2 separate regions of the Homo sapiens genome follow, and region 1 is linked to region 2. The links come from fine-mapping of genetic effects on gene expression. A gene starts in region 2. The other region holds a variant in brackets. All regions are shown on one strand. Distances are between the middles of the regions. Region 1 overlaps LOC339166 (a long non-coding RNA gene). Region 2 holds the start of RPAIN (RPA interacting protein).

The links. PIP is the estimated chance that this variant, and not a neighbour inherited with it, causes the effect.
Region 1: its variant is fine-mapped to the expression of RPAIN in lymphoblastoid cells (GTEx, PIP 0.97).

Annotation. Positions count from the first base shown.
Region 1 is chr17:5,814,896-5,825,707 of GRCh38, forward strand. All of the region lies in intron 1 of LOC339166 (a long non-coding RNA gene), which reads left to right. Among named protein-coding and RNA genes, the nearest start is that of NLRP1, 240 kb to the left of the region's middle. The variant C/G (reference allele first, on the strand shown) is at 5,118.
Region 2 is chr17:5,414,416-5,425,227 of GRCh38, forward strand. It overlaps RPAIN (RPA interacting protein), which reads left to right and starts at 5,767. Exons shown (of 7, transcript NM_001033002.4): 1 at 5,767-5,876; 2 at 6,881-7,051; 3 at 8,354-8,414. The coding sequence starts at 5,796. It overlaps NUP88 (nucleoporin 88), which reads right to left and starts at 5,247. Exons shown (of 17, transcript NM_002532.6): 1 at 4,939-5,247; 2 at 2,098-2,267. The coding sequence starts at 5,235. RefSeq lists enhancers at 4,609-5,248, 4,884-5,421, 5,422-5,959, 5,689-5,808, 5,819-6,038 and 1 more.

The DNA of each region.
Region 1 (10,812 bases), 400 kb after region 2:
GACGGCGGGTTCCAGGCATCTGTATATTTTTAAAGCTCCCAAAGTTTTCTGTGATTCTTGATTATTTCCTCAGGATCAATTCCTAGAATTGCTACACCAAAAGTATACTTAGAATTCTTTTAATTCTTATTACCCAGTTGTCCCTCAGAAAGATAACGTGCATTTCACCATCAATTTGTCAGAACCTGGCTTCTTTACCTTTGCTGATACAGGTATTAGATTTTAAAATGCCTCCCAGCCGAGAGGCCCAAATGGTGCATTGCCAGTGTTTTGATTTGTGTTTCTTGGATTACTGCTGAGGCTGAGCATCTCTTCCTATTCATTGGCCGTGTATATTTCTTCATTTCTGAATGGACCTCACAGTGGATTTAAGATTTATAGTTACACTCAGATGTGCAGCAGAAATGTAACTTTCTTCATTTTTTTTTTATAACCAAGCTTAGCTTGGTCCTGAATTTCTACCATTTCCACTCAGCAGAAACAAGCCAATTTTTTATTCAAAGTAACTTCTTGCTCAGTCACTTCCAGGTGACACGGTCTCACCTCCTGCACCCACTCCCATTCCTTTGGTCTCGATACTACTCTTTGGCACCTTGGTCCTTGGGGGCAGCCTCTGCACCGGCTGTGTCTGCTGCTGCTGCTGCTGCTGCTAGTAGTGTTCCCTGCTGTCCAGACCCCACCCTGGCTGGAATAGGAGCTGCAGAGGCCTGGGAGGTTGGACTGCAATAACAGTCTTTAGAGTCCAGCCCGGCCGGGTCTCTGAACCACACAGGAGGTGAGAACAACTCAGGAAGAGGGTTCCTCCACACCCCCTTCTCAGCTACCACTTGTACTCTCTTGATATCACCCCTCATTCCTCTCAGTGGCTGCCAGGGTTCTGGGTGGGAAGCAGACAAAAGACACTCTGCTCCCAGCCTTTTCTGGGGGCCAAGGAAAAATCTATGGCCACCTTGCTTGATCTTTCAAATTTCTCTCTTCCTTTTTTTTTGAGATGGAGTCTCACTCTGTTGCCCAGGCTGGAGTAGTGGCGTGATCTCGGCTCACTGCAAACTCTGCCTCCTGGGTTCAAGTGATCCTCCTTTCTCAGCCTCCTGAGTAGCTGGGACTACAGGTGCACGCCACCACGTCCAGCTAATTTTTGTATTTTTAGGAGAGATGGGGTTTCACCATGTTGGCCAGGCTGGTCTTGAACTCCTGACCTCAAGCAATCCACCCACCTCGGCCTCCCAAAGTGCTGGGATTACAGGCGTGAGCCACTGTGCTCGGCCAAATTTCTCTCTTCTTCTAAGAGAATTTGATTTGTTTTTGAGTGGAAAAACTGCTCTCGCCTCCTGTTTAGCATCCTCTCAACTCTGTGATCTTGGCTTTAGAGGCTTTGGCTTTGTTTTGTTTTTTTGTTTTGATGGCATTTGCAAAGAAAACTCTTTCTCTTGCAAATAAAAAATACTTTGACTATTGTTACAGGGAGGTCTTTAAAAGCTCCATTTTGAAAGTAAAATATGAGCAATACACTTATTCCTGGGTTTGCACTGTGGGGTGCTCATTAGAATCACTTGGAGAGCTTTTAAAAACCCTGATGCTCAGGCAGCACCCCAGAATTCAGAATTCCTGACAGTGGGTTCCAGGCATCCATATATTTTTAAGGCTCCCGAAGGGATTCAAATGGGTAACCAGGGTAGAGAAGTACTTGTTCCAAGCTGCAACTGCCCTACCCATTTCTGGGGCAATGGACCTAAGTAACCTCATGGCTCTTGAAGGCAGGGCTCCAAAGCACCCGGGGAACAAACTGGGCTGTGCCACTGAGGGCTGGGAATGCTGGCGCATGGGCTTCGCACCTGCATCTCAGGGCCTTGGAGGCAGAAGGGGCTCTCAGCTGGGTGTGGATTCATCTCCAGCCGGCTTGACAGGCCTGAGATGGAGGCTCACAGATGGAACCCTGCTAGGGGGAGAGGGGAGGAGGACTCTGCCCCTAGGTCCTCATTAGGCAGTGTAGGCGGGAAAGGACTTCCTCTGTTGCTGGAGTTTGTCAAAGATCAATATGCTGCAACATATGTTTTACAGCTTCCTGTGGTCTCTGATAAATCTCTGGAGACTCCTTTATTTGTCTTTTTTCCCCCTCAAGGTTATGAAGCCAACTGTTTTCCTCAGTGTACAGATGCGCGGAGGCAGGGAGCTCATTTTCCGTGAGAAACTGGCTTCTGAGGATGGAGGCTTTGGGGGAAGCTGGCACTCGGCCTACAGGACAGAGTGGTTGGGGTGTGGCAGACGGTGGGCAGCGTCTCTCCTCGGTCATGCACAGAACACAGGACAGACCCCTTTGCAAAGACTGATAGAAGCGACTTTGCTGTTTCCTTCACAGCAGCGTGGTTTTTAGCTTTCTACGCGCAAGGCATTTTGATGGAGGAATTAGGCACGTTTCCTGCCCTCCAGACACTTGCAGGTAGCAGGGGAGATAACTAGCTACCATTATTTCCAGCACCAGCTGCATGTCAGGCACAGGTGATGGAGATGATAATAGTATTAATAAAGCCTCCCACTTATTTAGCTGCTAATATGAGCTTGGCCTTTTAAAGCACTCTCTGTGTTCCTCACAGGAACTGGATGTAAGATGTCTTGCTACTGGAAGTGTGGCCCTGGACCAGTAGCTGCAGCTTTGCCTGAGACCTTCTTAGAAAGACAATCAGGCTCATCCCAGGCCCCTGAATCTGAATGCCTAGCCAAACAAGATCCCCAGGTGGTCCTGTATGGCTTGTCATCCCCATTTTACAGACAAGAAAACAGAGGCTCAGTGGGAATTGAGCAACTTGCTCAAGGCCACAGGGCACCTAGAAGTTAAGTGGAGATTTGAACCCACATTCTGGTTCCAAGACCTGCTGGTTTCCCACTCTGCAATGCTGCCTCACGGGACTCAGCAGATGTTGGTAAAGGCTAGACTGCAGTGCTATTGGAGAACTGAGGACTGGAGGAGGAACAGTCCCCAGATTTCAGATTTCAGATGGGGAAACAGCCAGGAGGGCTTCCTGGAGGAGGAGGTGTTTGAATCAGTCCTACAAGAGTGGGCAGGACCTGAAGAGAAGGGGCAGGCTTATTTGAGGTGGAGGAAGCAGCCTGAGCAAAGACAGGGAAGAGTGAGTATCGTTCATTCAGAACCTTCTCTTGGTGGCTGCAGACTCCTATGGCCAGACACAATACAGGATTTGAGATAGGATGGTGGCGATTCAGGAAAGCTTTGATTTCCCATTTGTCTGTGACTGCCAGAGGAAGCAGCCACACAGCCTCTGCCCTGGCTGCAGGGTGCTTAGAAATGGACCTGCCTAGAGGGAGGTCTGGACCCTTGGCCCCTGCTTCTTTGGGTCTGCGGAACCCTTTCCTCCCATGATCCCCTGCTGTGCCATGCCTTGCCTTCCCCAACCTGCCCCATCATCCCTTCACTGCTGAACTCAGAGAAAGGCTCACATAGCCCTTGACCCCTGGACACAGAAACCCCCATCTCTAGGCAATAACCAGTGGTCCAATTGGAGGTCATCATGGGACCTTGTCCCTGTTCCCTGTTCTGATTTTGGCAGTCAGCCATCTTCTCAAAATATAGATACCAACTGTGGTGGTGCCTGTCAAAGACAAAACCAAACACATAGGGAAATGGATTTTATTTATGTAATATGGAGCGCACCCGAGATCCGAAGATGAGAGTGTGTCTTCAGGGTGGTTTATAGACGTTTAGAGGGAGGAATAGCCAAGTTATAGGTAGGGTGATATTACAGTTAGGATTGTTTTTGTATTCAGAGAGTCTTCATCAATCAGCTGAACAGAAAATGTTTCTCTCTGTCTAGCTGGCTTCAGGAGGACAAACAATTCAGCCAACCATTTATGAGAAAAAGAATGGGAATTTAGAAAGTCCGTGTCTGGCCTTGTCCCGGGTTAACAAGGTGGTCATTCGCTAGTCTTATCTAAGTCATATGGGGGAGGGTGGTTCTTTGCAGTGAGCTGTTTTCCCAAACACAGAAGGGATGTGGGTACTTCTTAACCATCACTGTTTTTGCAAAACACAGGGCTTAGGGAAATTTCAACATCATCATGTCAGAATTTCTATACACAGAGGTGGAAGGAGAACCATCTGATTAGGAGGTGAGGGCCAGAGTAGTCCTTTGAAGTTGTAATTCCAGAGAAAGGATGTTGATTTTATTTGGATTGTGTGTTAATACCGATCAATAAAAATAGCAGAGTTTTCTAAGGATGCTCTTATTAATATTTTACATAAGTCTACAAAAGCATGAGTTTCTCACATCTAAAAGTATTTTTACAATCAACATCATATCATGTTAATGATTGACATGTATGTCAAATGGAATGGAGAATATGGAGAGTGGAGGGTGCAGCTGAGGCTCCATGGCTGCCCTCTGAGCTACGCAGTGGCTGAGGTTTCCTGCCAGGGGAGGCAGGACGTTGCAGTGCAGGGCTTCTCAGATCTTCGTTTGTGGATTATGGCTTTGGAACCACCTGGGAGGCTTGCTAAAATGCAGAATCCTAGGCCCCCATCAGGAGCTGCTGAATCAGAATCTGGGCATAGAGTGGAGTGGGGCTAGGGAGTCTGTACTTTTAACCAGCTCTCTGGTCCTTGATGGGGTGAAGTCAGAGAAGCCTTCCTTGTGAGTCAGATGATAAAAGTGAGGCCTGAAGAATGAGTGGAGGGAGAGACGGAGAGAAGGAGCATTCCAGTCCCAGGGAAGAGAATGTGCAAAGGCCCTGAGGTAGAAAGCTGCCTGGGGCACTTATAGATCAGACCAAGTGTCCTTATGGCTGGAGAGAAGCTGGCCAGGAAGGGAAGGCGCAGTGTAAGCCTGCAGGGAGAGCCCTGGGCCAGGTCCAGTGGGGCCCAGAGAGCCCTCCTGAGCATTCTGGACTTCTTCCTGAGAGATGTGGGTAGTCATCAAGGGTTTTAGTTGAGGGTGGGTGGGTGGGAGAGGTGGGAATGTGAGTTGATCACTGGCCCATCACACCCAAAGTGTCCAAAACTAAACCTCCAGCCCTCAACCTACTCTCCTTCTCAGTGAGGGCCATCGCCCACCCAGACACCTCAGAAGGAAGCCTGGCCATCACCTGGATTCTGCTGACTTGTC[C/G]CAAACATCTCTCGAATCCATCTACTTCTCCCCCCTCACCCCCTCTCCTGCCATTACCTGAGATTGGGCAGTACCTTCTCTCACCTGGACAATGTCAGCAACCTGGGCTTCCTTCCCCCGGCTCGCTCTCCCCATGCCCACCCATTCTCCCTACGATGTAGACTGGCCTTTCTATTAGGCAGTGGTGAGAGATGAGACTGGAGAGATACTCAAACAGCTCGGTGATCCCCACTGCCTCTGGAAACTGTCCTCAACACCATGTGCTCCGTGCCCCCACCCTGCTCCCCTCTCTATCTCTTACCACTGCCTACTCGACAGCCCTCCTCCCACTCCTACCCAGCACCTCCTCACCTCCAGGCTGCTCCACTCTGCCTGACACTTAGATCACTGACTCCAGCACACAGTCCCAGCTCCAGGCCGCCTCGTCTGGAGGCCTTCCTTGACCCTCCCGGGCTGGGCCAGGAACTCCCGCTATGCAGTCTCCTCCCGCCTGCCTGCTCTTCTTGGGGTCTCTCCCAGAGGACCCTGGCCCCTTCTCAGGGGAGGATCTGGGTATTTCTTCCACTACTCCTGGCATCTGGCAGAGCAACTGATCTAGGAAGTGCTTTGTGGGTAAATGTTAGCTAAGCAAGGGTAGGTTTCTTGGCTTCCCCTGGATTGCCCAGTGTGGGGCCCTGATGGCAGCAGCAATCTGGTGGCCTCGGCCTGGGGCTGTTGCTTTCTGGAATATTCTCCTCCCAGCTCCTCGCCTCCCTGCCTCTTCATCTTCTCCCCTTTGGCTTTAATGCTTGTAAGACCATCCAGGATAATTAAGAGAGAGGAGTTTTATGCTGTTTATGGGACTTTGATCAAAGATTTTAATTAACCTACCTTGCTTTAAGCCTTTAAAAGTTCATTCCCCAGGGCTGACCGTTTGATAATGGAATTAATGCTTCTAGGCAGAGTGGGGGAGTGGGGGAAGCAGGAATCGGGAGGGCTGACAAGGAGGGCCTAGCGATTGTCTCATTAACCCTTCCCCAGATGGATAGATTTCGGCTCAACATAAAAGATTTGTCTCAGTCTGAGCTATTCACCTATGGAATGATGGGGTTGGAGTGGTGGTGAGACCCCCATCGCTGGAGGTATGCTAGCAGATACTAGACAGTCTCCTAGGAGGGAGGTTAGTCAGTCATCGCCTCATTGATCAGACGAGGTCACTTTTAGGGACCTGCCAGACCTACGAGTCATTCTCTCTCTCCCTATGCCATGCTGGGGAGGGGCAGGGTACACAGTCTGACTCATACCTGGAGCTTTGGGTTGAGGTCAAACCAGTAGTTCTAATAAGAAGACAAAGACTAAAGGCAGCAACTCCATGAAGCTAACATACCACTTGCAAAAAAATCACTCTTCCAACCAGCCTTCATGGAAGCTGCGCAGAGGGAATACTTATCTGTGCAGACACCACCTCATGGGTTCAGACCTGTGCATCTGCTTTAGAAGCCCCGAACTAGTTGTCACTGGGGAGGCAGTCCTGCAGGTAGGGGTTCCTGAGCAGACATGCACCAGACACCCCTGGAAAGAGACTTCCTGGAGCACAGGCCCTGCCTGTTCTCAGATGCCAGTGCCTTCCGGTAACAAGCACCTCCTTTAGCTCAGGTGAGGATCTTGGTGAGACAGTCTGCTGTTTTGAACTTGGGGGGAAAAGGGACTGCAGTCAGGAATGTCTGTGGTAGGTGGGGTGGGGGATGCAGGAAGGAATTAGGGTTCTTAGCTAAGATCTATTGAGTTGATTATTTTCCAGACACTGTGGCAAGTACTCTATGTGTGTTAACTCATGTAATCTGGCTGGTATTATTTTTCCCATCTAATAGATGAGGAAATCTAGGCCCTTTGAAATACGGCTCCCCAGGGGATGGAGGATGAAGGTCATAGAGTTTCTGGCCCTCTCTGGTCTGGACTCCAGCATGCTTTCCCCCAGCATTCCAGAAATTTTCCACTTACAAGAACTGGCTCATGTCTTCCCTACCATTCTTCAAGGTTTGGCTGAAATGTTGGTGCCCAGCGGCCCATGCCCCACCCAACTCCTCCCATCCTAAGCCCCTGGGAGCTTTCACTGGATTCCCAAAATACTCACTGGTACTTGTATTTTGCCAGTTATGTCCTTCTTTCTGGCGTTATAAATATCCGTTTTAATGCCCAATGCCCAGCCCTCCGGCCGCTAGACAAAGATGATTTCAAGGTGGGAAGACCATGTTTAATTCATCTTTGTCTTATTCCTCCACCCAGCATAAACCCCACATTTCACAAGTGATGTTGAATAAAATGAAAGAGGAAAAGCTCCACTTCTACATCATTAGGTTCTGAGCTGATAAGTAGAAATATTAAGGTGTCAATCAACAAGCATTTCCTGAGTCCTGGTCAAACGGGCAAGGTTCCCCTGTCCCCGTCGCAGGGTGTGCATTGGGGGTGTGGCTCACCTCTTCAGTGCCTCACTGCTGAAATTCTAGGGGAGCATACAGACAGGCAGGCTGTGGGGGCTCTGACCCCATGGTAGTGTCTAGGGGTGAGTGTTCACAGCTGAAGCCCCAGTGGGCGTGTGTTACAGGGTGCTCTTTTAGTTTGCCGTCTATAGGCGGCTTGTGTTAACCAACTCAATTAGAGCCCCTGCTTTATCACAAGGACAGAGAGATTTCTGTATCCCACAGTTTCTTGCCTTGGTATACCACAAGCATCGGATCACACGTGGGCTTGGAGAATGAGTGCAAGGTTTTATTGAGAGGAAGTAGCTCTCAGCAGATGAAGGAGCCAGAAGGGAGATGGTTTTCCCCTGGAGTCGGGCCAGGTGGACGCCCCACTCTTCTCGGACTGCTCCATCCCAGCTCCGCATTGTTTTGCTGGTCAATGGCCGGCCAGGGTGCTGGTGCCTGACCGTGTGTTCTTCCACTGGTGTGCTCCTCTCCATGTCCTCTCAAGGACATCCAGCTGCTTGTCTCTTCCACCCATGTGCTCCTCTCAACGTCTGCCTGTCTGCCCGATAGGGTCTTAGGTTTTTTTTTTTTTTTTTGAGGTGGAGTTTTGCTTTTGTTGCCCAGGCTGGAGTGCAATGGTGCGATCTCGGTTCACCTCAATCTCCACCTCCCAGGTTCAAGCAATTCTCCTGCTTCAGCCTGGTCAGGCTGGTCTTGAACTCCCCACTTCAGGTGATCTTCCCGCCTCGACCTCCCAAAGTGCTGGGATTACAGGCATGAGCCACCACGTGCCCACCTGGGTCTCAGGTTTTTATAGGCCCAGGATGGGGGCGTGGTAGGCCAGGATGGTCTTGGGAAATGCAACATTTGGGCAGGAAATGCCTGTCCTTACCTAGGTCTGTGAGGGTGGAGCCCTAGCCAGGGACCACGCCCTCCTCTACGCAGCACTTCCCTTCCCCACTTCCGTATTATTTAAAGGGACCGTGCTCTTCCCTTCCCAGCACTTCCCTGTCACTGGAAACTATGTATCACCTGGGGGTGGGGAGGAGATGGGGTTGCTTGTCATCATAAGCCCTTCTACAGCCTTTGACTTTTTTTTTTTTTGAGACAAGGTCTCTCTCTGTCACCCAGGCTGGAGTGAGGTGGCATGATCATAGCTCACTGCAGCCTCAAACTCCTGGGTTCAAGCAATCTTCCCACCTCAGCCTCCTGTGTGGATGGGACCACAGGCATGCATCACCACACCTGGCTAATTTTTTTTTTTTTTTTCTGGGTAGACACAGGGTCTCACTATATTTCCCAGGCTGGTCTCAAACTCCTAGCCTCAAGTGATGCTTCTACCTCAGCCTCCAAAAGCACTGGGATTACAGGCATTAGTTACTGTGCCCAGCCTGAATTTTTAAATTATGTATATATATAACTTTGCTTTAAAATGCATATTTAACAGTGAAATAAATGGCATTTTCTTTCATGTCTTAAAATCACCAACCAGAGGGCAAAAAGCCAAATTCCAAGTGGCTAAGCGTGACCCTTATAAGGGAACTGTCAGTTTCCCATTGGGTGGCCTAGGTTCAGAGGGAAGCCCCTGTTTACCCCAATTATGTCCAATGTCTCCAATGATACAGAGGAAAAGGAGCAATGTTTCTTTTTCTTTTCTTTTTTTTTTGAGATGGAGTCTCACTCTGTCACTCAGGGTGGGGTGCAGTGGTGTGGTCTCGGCTCACTGCAAGCTCCGCCTCCCGGGTTCACACCATTCTGCCTCAGCCTCCCGAGTAGCTGGGACTACAGGCACCTGCCACCACACCTGGCTAATTTTTTGTATTTTTAGTAGAGACAGGGTTTCATTATGTTGGCCAGGCTGGACTTGAACTCGGAGCAATGTTACTTTAGGAAGCCGTTTCTGCAGAGGCTTGTCATGGTCGTAAGATGCCAGATCTGACGAGGAGCCCCTTTCATGCCTGTGCTGTAGGAGAGGCTTGAGGGCCAGGCCTGGGGAGCATGGATTCTGTCTTGAATTCCTTTCCTGGTCCTGCTGTTGGAAAAGGCTATGCAGGGAGCGGGTTCTTGAGGCAGGTATCAGAGATGCAGGAGAAGAGGCAAGAGAGAAAGCAAGCATCTCTGTCTACATCCAGAAATTAGATGCAAGGCCTGAAGTTTTCCCATATCTCTGAGAAATTCAGGTGAGGAAAAGGCACGGTTTCCCTTTTACAAAGATAAGATACATTTAGAGTTTGATTAAGCATTGAGGGAGAACAGCTGGAGTTAGTGGGGACAGTACTTATTATAATGCCTGTTTTAAGAAATAGTCACATTTTGGGGGAACAATACCATGGATTATCTGCCATGGCCTAGAGCATCACGGATAAGAGGGCATGCTCCGGGATCAGTCTGGGCTCTGCCTCTCTTTAGCCTTGTGGCCCTAGTCAGGTTTCTTCACCTCTCTGGGCCTCAGTTTCCTCATCTGTGAAAAGGGAACAATGATAGTACCTACCTCAGAGGTTGTTGTGGGGATTAGTTGAGCTAATACATGTAGCTTATGTATTACTGTATGCTCATGTATTACTGGCATAGTAAGTGTCACATAAATGTGAGTTGCTATTATTTATGATTGCTATTACTATCACGTAGGATCTGCTGTCTGTGATGGGGAGAAGCCAGCCAGGGGTGCACATAGTCAAATCCTAAGGTGCCACCGTCACTATCACCAAAGGAGGACATAGATGACTTCTGAGGCATATCTACATTGCTCAGCCTTGTGCTGGCAGGTGGCAGGGAGGGAACCGCTGCATCTGCCACAGCCCCAAATCTAAAGTGGGAAAGGGGCTTGGGATTGCACATAGATGCCCTGAGGCTGTAAGGAATGCCGCCTTGGAGAGCTCCTTGGAAGGAAAGCTTTGGGGGAGCTGAAGCAGAGGGTCTCAAATTTAGAGTGCATCAGAATCGCTGGGAAACTCATTGAATTTCAGCTTCCCAGGTTCATGGTTATTGGGCGGGGCTGCAGCATCTGCCTTTGAAACAAACATCTCTAAGTGATTATGATGCAGTTTTCCTTAGTCTGCAGTTACCTGGGAGACACAGCACATGTAGCTTCTGAGAAATGAGCACCTGAGCTCCCTCACATGAACTGACTTCCTTCTTGGCTGAGAGAACTTCAGAGGTGCTAGGTTTTTAATCAGGGTTCCTGGCACCGTGACTCTGACCCTCAGCTGAGCCCTTGCCATGAATATAAGCTTAGTTTTTATTCTGAT
Region 2 (10,812 bases):
AACTCCCGACCTCAGGTGATCTGCCCACCTCGGCCTCGCAAAGTGCTGGGATTACAGGCATGAGCCACCACGCCAGGCCCTGAAGAAATTTCTATTTTAACACTCTTTGATTCTCTTTCCTTCAGATTTATTTCCCTGAAATCATGCTGAGAGGACATTCAAGGCATCTATTCAATCAATATCAAAGAATTGAAATAAAAATATCTTCTAAATTATAGCACACTGGCTGGGCGCAATGGCTCACGCCTATCTTAGCACTTTGGGAGGCCAAGGCAGGTGGATCACCTGAGGTCAGGAGTTTGAGACCAGCCTGGCCAACATGGTAAAACCCCGTCTCCACTAAAAATACAAGAATTAGGCAAGTGTGGTGGCACATGCCTGTAACCCGTTACCCGTGAGGCTGAGGCAGAAGAATCGCTGGAACCCAGGAGGTGGAGGCTGCAGTGAGCTGAGCTTGTGCCACTGCACTCCAGCCCGGGCTGAGGAGGTTGCAGTGAGCTGAGATCACGCCACTGCACTCCAGCTTGGGCTACAGAGCCAGACTCTGTCTCAAAATAAATAAATAATTTATTTATTTTAATAATTTAAATTATTTATTTAAATTTTATTTGTTTATTTATTTGAGATGAAGTCTCACTCTGTGGCCCAAGCTGGAGTGCAGTGGCGTGATCTTTGCTCACTGCAACCTCCGCCTCCTGGATTTAATCAATACTTGTGCCTTAACCTCCTGAGTAGCTGGGACTACAGGCGTGTGCCACCACACCCCACTTATTTTTTGTATTTTAGTAGAAATGAGGTTTCACCATGTTGCCCAGGGTGGTCTCAAGCTCCTGAGCTCAGGTGATCCACCTGCCTCGGCCTCCCAAAGTGCTGGGATTACAGGTGTGAGCCATCGTGCCTGGCTCCAAATTATAGCATATTTCATACGTATATATACATTTTAGGATGGTTTGACTTAGGATTGATACATATTTATACAGTACAAGTGTTTTCAGATATAGTATCTCATTTGATCTTTTTACTAACCCTGTAAGGAAATTACAAGGGCAGATATTATCAATCCTATTTTTAAAATGAGGAAACAGATTTAGAAGGTAAACAGTTTAAGGGGACTCAACTTATAAGTTGCGGAGCTAAAAGCAGTTTCTACCTTATACAGATGATCCCCAACTTTACAATGGGTTTACCAGTACATAAGCCAACATAAACTGAGGAGCTCCTTACGACTTATGATGGGGTTACCCATCATAATGTTGAAAAATCCTACGTTGAACCATCCTAAATCGGGGATCCTCTGCTGTGTTGTCAGCAATAAATCCATTTTCAACTTACACTGGGTTTATCGGGACATAACCCAATCGTAAGTTGAAAAGCATCTGTACTCTTTTCAGTAGATCTTTCAGATTCACTTTTCTGGATTTGTTGAAAAAGAAATTATATAAAAATAGGCCAGGTGCGGTGGCTCACACCTATAACCCCGGCACTTTGGGAGGCTAAGGTGGGTGGATCACTTGAGGTCAGGAGTTCAAGACCAGCTTGGTCAACATGGTGAAACCCCGTCTCTACTAAAAATACAAAAATTAGCTGGGCATGGTAGCGCTTGCCTGTAATCCCAGTTACTCGGGAGGCTGAGGCAGAAGAATCGCTTGAATCCAGGAGGCGGAGCTTGCAGTGAGCCGAGATTGTGCCACTGCACTCCAGCCTGGGTGACAGAGCAAGACTCCATCTCAAAAAAAAAAAAAAAAAAAAAAGTATATATATATATACACACATACACACACACACACACACATAAAATACTTACACTTCTGGCAAACTTCTGGCTGACAGATAACTGGTTTTACAAAATCTTACTTCTACCTAATCGAAAGAATGGCCTAGCCTCAAATGAGACAGCAACGTGGTACTTCAGGCAGAATAAAGTACAATCAATTACACATATACTATGAACATTGATAACACAGAAGCCAGTCTGCAGACCACGAGGAGTGTTTTAATGTTTTAAGAGTAGTATACTAAACATGCTTAAGAACCACTAGTCTTGAACAATTTTCTGTATATATAATAAATTATACAGATAAATAGTATACAACTTACCTACAATTCACTGTTGATTTTCCACCTTCAAATTCAGAATTCTTCCCCCATCTTTTAGGTAATTCTAATACCATAAGTCCTTTTATTCCTATAAGTGCTACATGATGTTGTGTTGGGCTTAACAAGACTTGATAGATTTCAAACAGGGGTGGATTTATGCAAAGCAATCTCTGAAAATTAGAGCAAACCAGTCAACATAGTTAATTTTAATTTAAATATAGGTGGCAGTTACTTGAAATCACAGTAATACTTAGTTTACTACAATTATAGGATAATAAAACTCTGGATAAGTACTCACACTTGTACCATTAACTCACAAATTTTTTTTTTTTTTTTTGAGACAGAGTCTTGCTGTCACCCAGGCTGGAGTGCAGTGGCAGCCCACTGCAGACTTTACTATGGGGGTTCAAGTGTCCTCCCCACCTCAGCTTCCAGAGGAGCTGGGACTACAGGTGTGCACCATCACTCCCAGCTAATTAAAAAGGTTTTTTTTGTAGAGATGGGGGTTTCGTCATGTTGCCCAGGCTGGTCTGAACACCTGTTCCCGTGCTCACAAGATCCACCTGCCTCCACCTTGGCCTCCTAAAGTGCTGATTATAGGCTACAGCTACCACACCCAGCTTACTCATGCTTGCTTTTAACATCCAAAGTTACAACTCATGATAAGCTGCTTTCTTCCCCATCTCTAAGGTTTTGAGATTTTGGAGGAGTGAAGGTTATTGAGATAGTCACCAATATTTACTGAAAGCTTATAAATTCTGGGCACTCCAGCATTTCTGTATGCTGGACATACAAAAATAAGTAAATAGCCAGGCGTGGTGGCACATGCCTGTAGTCCCAGCTACTTCCAGGCGCTGAGGTGGGAGGATCACTCGACCCCTGACAGTAGAGGCTCCAATGAGCCGTGATCACACCACTGCACTCCAGCCTGGGCAACAGAGAAAGACCCCATTTCAAAAATAAAAAATAAAATACGTTTTTAAAAAATGACAAGGGCAGACCCAGCCCCTGCCTTGGAGCTTACAGTCTAGAAAAGAAGACAGAGGCAGAGTGCCATGGCTCACGGCTGAAATGCCAGCACTTTGGGAGGCCAAGACGGGTGGATCACCTGAGGCCAGGAGTTCCAGATCAGCCTGGTTAACATGGTGAAACCCCGTCTCCACTAAAAATACAAAAAGTAGCCGGGTACGGTGGAGTGGGCCTGTAATCCCAACTACTCAAGAGGCTGAGGCAGGAGAATCGCTTGAATCCATGAGGTGGAGGTTGCAGTTAGCTGAGATTGCACCACTGCACTCCAGCCTGGGCAACAGAGCGAGATCCTGCCTCAAAACAAAACAAAACAAAAACAGCCGGGCGCAGTGGCTCACGCCTGTAATCCCAACACTTTGGGAGGCCAAAGCCAGCAGATCACGAGGTCAGGAGTTCAAGACCAGCCTGGCCAACATGGCGAAACCCCGTCTCTACTAAAAACACAAAAATTAGTCGGGCGTGGTGGCAGATACCTGTAATCCCAGCTACTCGCGGGGGGGGCTGAGGCAGAAGAATCGCTTGAAACTGGAAGGTGGAGGTTGCGGTGAGCCGAGATGGCGCCATTGCACTCCAGCCTGGGCAACAAGAGCGAAACTCCATCTCAAAAAAAAAAAAAAGACACAAAATAATTATAAATAATTAAGTTATGATTATGTCAAATGCTACACAGCAGTATAGAATGTTATTAGAATACTGCGTGCTGCACATTTGGTAATTATTATTATTTTTTGAGACACAGTCTTGCTCTGTTGCCCAGGCTGTAGTGCAGGGGCGTGATCTCAGCTCACTGCAACCTCCTCCTCCCAGGTTCAAGCGATTCTCCTGCCTCAGGCACCTGAGTAGCTGGGATTACAAGGGCGCGCCACTACACCTGGCTAATTTTTGTATTTTTAGTAGAGACGGGGTTTCACCATGTTGGCCAGGCTGGTCTCGAATTCCTGACTTCAGGTGATCCACCTGCCTCTGCCTCCCAGTGTTGGGACTGCAGGCGTGAGCCACCGCGCCCGGCCTTCATAATTCTTTTTAACTGAAATTGGGTAAATAAGTAGACTGTAGACTCCTGCCCTATTTTCAAAACTGCAGAAGCATTGCTAGCGTCTTATTAAAATTAAATCACTTCTCGGTAACAAGAATTGGACCGGGCACACAACAGATGTCATACCTTAGAATGAGTACCAAGCTCTTTTTCATCTTTAAGAGAATCTGTGTATTACAAATAAACATTTCCATAAACCAATATTTGACCACGGCAAGTGTGTAATACTTTCTGGATCACACCCATTTTCACATGCTGTCGGCTAATCAAAAACAAAAATCCCCATTTTGGGTATGGCTTTATTTTCTAAAGCGGGCGTTACGGGGGTAAGAATTAACAGAGACTTCCTCCTCCATGTCAAGCATGAAGCGTGGTGCTTTGAAACCTGCAACCTGACTTGCTGTGCACAACGCAAGAGAAAGTTACGATCTAACCTATTATAAGCGTCACATCAGGAAACAGGTTTCTCTCGACGAAACTAAAAATAGCAACTCCGCCCACTCGTTCTCAACCCCTTTAGCCCGCTTTGTTTTTCTCCAGAGCACTCATCCGTCACTAGTATTTTTATTGAATATTCAATGACCCTTTCCTTCCTCCCAGGCCTCCAGGCCGTAAGCATCGAGAGAGCCTGAGTCCCCGCGACCGCGTATGGCAGCGTCGGAGTCAATCCGCTGGAACGCCTGCCACAAGATGAAAAACAGCCAAGAGGAGCAAGGAACAAAAAAGACTGGTTCCGATCCCGGTGAGGGTCACTTCCAAGATCGGCCTGGCATTACCTGGTACTGGGACAGGGCGGGCTCTTCGCCGCCGCCGCTGGGGCCCCGAAGGCGAACGACTAAGAAGGAGCTGTCTTCTCCGTCCCACAGGAAAAGCTCTCCGCCGAGGCCAAAGACCACGTTTCTCGTCAGCAACTGCGGCGGCGGCGACGAAGGCAACGACGAAGAAGCTGGTTTCTCAGCTTCGGTTGGACTCTGGTTTTTCAGTCCCTCCCGGAGCCGCAAGAACACGACGTGGTTAGGAAGCCAGGTCTGCCACAGCTCGCCGTCGCCCACCGGTCCCTCGGCGGCCGCCATCTTGGCCCAACTGCTCCCCTCACTCCAGTTGCTCAGCCCGCCGCTGAGCACAGCCAATCCGCGGCCGTCCACTCACTGTTTCGGCCAATCACCGAGCAGACGGCCCGGAAGCTCGAGAGGCTCGTGCCAGGTCGGGGGGCGAAGGCGAGGCCAGCCCACCAAGCAGGGGCGTCACCAAGGGAAAGCCAATCACCATTATTTCTGAAGCCCAAGGGGGCGGGACGAGAAGTCAACATAATGGTGGTGCTGCTGGAAATCTAGCACCTGGGGAGAGCCTGAGACTTGTGTATCTAATTGCCTATTGGACACCTCCATCTGGGTAAACCCAGGCATCCAGAACTTTCCCTCAAGACTTACCTCCCTCAGTGCAGGTCGGGCTGGCCTCACGCATTTCGCTTGGATGCCTAAATCTGTCTCCACGTGGGGCCGGTCGATAAAACAACACTTCCCAGAATACGCTGCGATCCATTCGCGGTCTGCACCCGGAAAGTACACCTCCCAGGGGTCTGTGCGCGCCTCCAGGGAACGGGTCTTGTGGCTTTGTCTCCCGCGAAGAGGAGATGGCGGAGTCGTTGAGGTCTCCGCGCCGCTCCCTGTACAAACTGGTGGGCTCGCCGCCTTGGAAAGAGGCTTTCCGGCAGGTGGGTATGGGGTTTGTGCAGTGGTCTACCCTAGATCGTCCCGGTGACCGCCGTCTTCCCTGCCTTCGCCTTAGCCCTGCTCCGTGGAGCAGGTGCCGCAGCGCGCCTGGTCTGGTCAAACCCAGGCCTGCTGACTGTAGAGTGTGGGATTAGCCCGGGTCGGTCAAGTCCTAGAAAGCCTTGTTTTTGGATTCGATTTTGTTTTGAATTTAAATTGTGGTCAGGACATCACCGTTTGCACCTCTGCAATAACACTACCTACTGTTGCTGCGGAGGTGGCCACCGAGAGAGGCACTTTGTCTACGTTCGTCTTGTGAGATAGAGATGATTTCTATTCTAGAGAGTAGTAAAATGAGGCTTAGAAGAGGGCTCCACCTCAGTTCTGGCCTCTTCTGAACACAGTGTGGTTATTAGTAAGTAATGTCCAAGAAAGTAACCCGACGCAAGAAAGATAGCAGATACAGCAGAGTTTCTCAGCCTTGACAATGGACATTTTGAGGGAGATATTTATATGTTGTGGAGGGTTGTTTAAGCCACGTCTCGGGCCTCCACCCACTAGATGCTAATAGTCCTATAACTAGAATTGTGACAACCAGAAATGTCTCCAAGCATTGCCAAATGTTCCTTGGGGGACAAAACCTCCCTGAGTTCAGAAACGCTGCTGTGCAGGAAGGCCGTTACCCAGCCATATCTAGAGTAGCAAGAATTTGGAAGGAATATAAATGTTCTGTAATAGGACATTGGATGCTGAGATATTATGCACACAACCATTAAGGAAACTGGCAAGCTAGAATAAAAAATATGGTTCTTTGTAAATACGTGTACAAAGCATTGTAATTTTATGTATCTCTACAGAGGAATATGCAAAAGTAACACTAGTTAGTATTATCATTGAAATTTTGTGTCTATAAACTTTCTTTAATGTTTTCTCAACTAATGTAAGAGTGTTTTTTAAAAATAGAAATGCTTTTTTTTTCCCCCCCAATCTTGCTCTTTTTTCCCAGAGATGCCTGGAGAGAATGAGAAACAGCCGGGACAGGCTCCTAAACAGGTACCGCCAGGCTGGAAGCAGTGGGCCAGGGAATTCTCAGAACAGCTTTCTAGTTCAAGAGGTGATGGAAGAAGAGTGGAATGCTTTGCAGTCAGTGGAGAATTGTCCAGAAGACTTGGCTCAGGTCAGGCTGGGCTATGTGTTTTCAGGGAGGGGGACTGCACCACCAAGAACGGCTCGTGTCCTCTTTTATTTGTTTACTTGAGTCCTCTAAACCCACCATTCCCCTAACCCCATTTAGAATTCAACAGCCTTTAACCCAGGCTTTTCTACACTTAATGTTAGACTTGTCTAGATGAAATGGTCTGAAATACCAGACCGTAGACCTGCTCATCACTGCAACATCATCATTTATGAAACTAAAAAGAAAGAAATTTCATTTCTTGCCTCCACCCTTGGAAATTATGATTCAGTAGGCATAGGCTAGGAATCTCTTTCTCTCCCTCTCTCTCGCTCTTTTTTTTTTTCTGTCTTGCTCTGTCGCCCAGGCTGGAGTGCAGTGGCAAGATCTCGGCTCACTGCAACCTCCACCTCCTGGGTTCAAACGATTCTCCTGTCTCAGCCTCCCAAGTAGCTGGGATTACAGATGTGTGCCACCATGCCCGGCTAATTTTGTTTCTGTTTTAGCAGGGATGGGGTTTCACCATGTTGGCCAGGCTGGTCTTGAACGCCTGACCTCTAGTGATCTGCCCACGTCAGGAATCTCTTTCTAAAAAGGTCTCCAGAAACTTTCCGATTCTAATCTCAGCCAACGTTGGCAGCCATGTGTGGAAGGGAAAACCATTTATAGTGTATCAGGAAGAACACTGGATTCGAAGTCAGGAGTTCCAGAATTCAAATCCTGGTTTGGCTATTGACTGTTAACTTCAGTTTGCCTCTTTGAGGTTTAGTTTTCACATTTATAAAATGAGAAGATAATGTTTTCAGCATTGTAAGGACTGTGTAAGAAAATGTGGGCAACTGTTTGAAACCATCAACACCCTGTGTAATAATGATGCATTATTCAGTGGCTTTTGTGTGTCCTGCAGTACACCAATGTTTGCCTTATATCACCACAACTAGTACTCACAGTAACCCTCTTAGATAGATTTTATTCCCACTTTACAGAGGCCAAAACTGAGATTTGCAGAGATTAGGAACTTTTCATGTGGTTACGTAGCCTTGGAAGAATATGTACCTAACTGCTACCCTATATCGTCTCTCCAAAATTGGGTACCATTATTTTGTCACTGGATAGTTGGATCATTTGTTGATGGCTTGTCAGCATGACAGCATTACCCCACTGTCAGCATATTCTGCAGGAGGACTGGACTGATTTTGTCCAATAAATCTGGGTTCTTCAAGCCAGCCTCCAAGTATGAATCACTGTGGGGCTTGGTTGGTGATTAATACTTCAAACTTCTGATGCCGCTCCTTTCTCTTCCAGCTGGAGGAGCTGATAGACATGGCTGTGCTGGAGGAAATTCAACAGGAGCTGATCAACCAAGGTAACCCCTAGTGGTAGTCCTTCCTTACCTGTATTTAGCTACTGGAATACTGTGACCTTTCCTCCAATCAGGATTAGTTTATAAGTCCCCTTTGTCTACCTCCATCAGTCAAGTGTCCAAAAGACTCCTTTTGTACTCTGACATCTTGGCTGTCTAGCTTCTCAATAATAAGGGTCTCCAGGGTGCTAGACCTTGTGCTAAGAACTTCTCATTTAATGATGCTGTTTTCTCCATGTGACTGCCCTGTAAGATAGTAGTATTAGAACAGAAGGTGGTTGGTGTTCTCGTGCAGGTCATACAGCTAGTAAGTGGAGGAGATGGGAAGCAAAATCAGTTGTATGAATCCAGTTCCCATGTTTCTTCTACCATCCTGCCTCTCTATTAATGGGTTAATAGTTCACTGAGGGTGGTGGCTTATGCCTGTAATCCCAGCATTTTGAGAGGCTGAGGCAGGAGTATTGCTTGAGGCCAGTTCAAGACCAGCATGGGCAACATAACAAGATCCTGTCTCTACAGAAGTAAAAAAAAAAAAAAAAAAATTATCTGGGTGTGGTAGCAAATACTTGTAGCCTCCCTCAGCCAGAAGGCTTAGGCAGGAGGATCACTTGAACCCAAGAGTTTAAGGTTACAGTGAGCTATAATTTTACCACCTCACTCCAGCCTGGCTGACAGAGGGAGACCCTGTCACTTTAAAAAATAAAATAAAAAAAAGTAAACCTGCCATTTTACAGGATACAGTGATAGTGCATGGTCTGATCCCTTGCCCTATTCATTTTAAGTGCCACATTCTCTATTAACTCCCCAGGGCCTGTGAGCATCCACTCCTTGAGGGAGGTGTCCATAGCATGGTGTAGAGAGCATAATTTTGTACCTTATATAGTTAAGTCATTTATTCCATGTAGCCCTGATTTGATTAGGCCTTGTTTGGTTTTTGTTTTTGTTTTTTTTGAGACAGGGTCTCTGCCCAGGCTGGAATGCAGTGGCGTGATCACGGCCCACTGCAGCCTTGACCTCCTGGGCTTAAGCGATCTTCCCACCTCAGCCTTCTGAATAGCTGGGATCATAGGCGTGTGCCACCACCCCTGGCTAATTTTTTTTTATTAATTTTTTTTTTTTAGCTAAAGATGATAAAAACAAGACAAAAAATTATTTTATTTATGTATTTTTTTTTTTTTTGAGATAGGTTCTTGCTCTGTTGCCCAGGCTGGAGTGCAGTGATGTAATCATGGCTCACTGTGGCTTCATCCTCCTAGGCTCAACCAATCCTCTCATCTCAGCCTCCCGAGTAGCTGGGACCGCAAGTGTGCACCACCATACCGAGCTAATTTTTTTATTTTTTTGTAGAGACAGGGTCTCACTGTGTTGCCCAGGCTGGTCTCGAACTCCTCCCTGGTCTCAAGTGATCCCCCCACCTCAGCCTCCTAAAGTTTTGAGATTACAGGCATGAGCCAAAATGCCTAGCCTAATTTTTTAAATTTTTTTGTAGAGGCAGGGTCTCACTATGTTGCCTAGGCTGGTCTCAAACAGCTGGACTCAAACCATCCTCCTACTTCAGCCTCCCAAAGTGTTGGGATTACAGACATGAGGCATGGCCCCCAGCCTTAGGCTTCATTTTTATGACCTATAAAATGGAGAGAATACCCTATAAATTTGTTGTAAGGCTTAAATAACGTGTGTAGAAGACTTAGTGCATTGTCTGGCATATAGAGAGCTTTCAATAATCAACAGCTATTATTATGGTGAGGCAAGAGCACAAGCTCTTGAGTCATACCTCTAACATTCACTTGGCTTTACTACTTTAATTTGTGTGGCACCGACCAAAGCACTTAATTTCCCCGTGCCTCAGTTTCTTCACCTTTGAAATAAGGATAATAATAGTGAAGAAGTTAATATATGTAAGGAATTTAAAATAGCATTTGACACATAAGTGCCATGCAAGTGTTAGTTGTTAATGACTGTTGCTGTCGACTCTGGTTAGACTGTAAATTCCTTAAGTTATCATCTTTTTTTATTGATTTTCCCTTCCCCCACCTACAAAACCTATCTTAGTGGTGAAACATAAGCCTGACCAAATGTTTTATTTTGGGGCATACTTAACTAATAAGTCTGAAGTGACAAGGATTTACTGTGTTGTGCTGTACTCAGCCATAAGGAACATTCTAAAGCAGAAGTTGGCAGACTTTTTGTGAAGAGCCAGATAGCAAATACTTTAGACTTCACAGACCATGTGGTCTCTGGCACAATTTCTCAGCTCTGCAGTTCTAGTGGAAAAGCAGTTATAGACACTACATAAACAAATAAGCGTGACTGTAGTTTTTTGACCCCTTCCCTAATGTCTAGACTGTGAGCTCAACAATGACAGTCTTTTTCATCTTTGTGCCCCTGTGACTAGCAGATA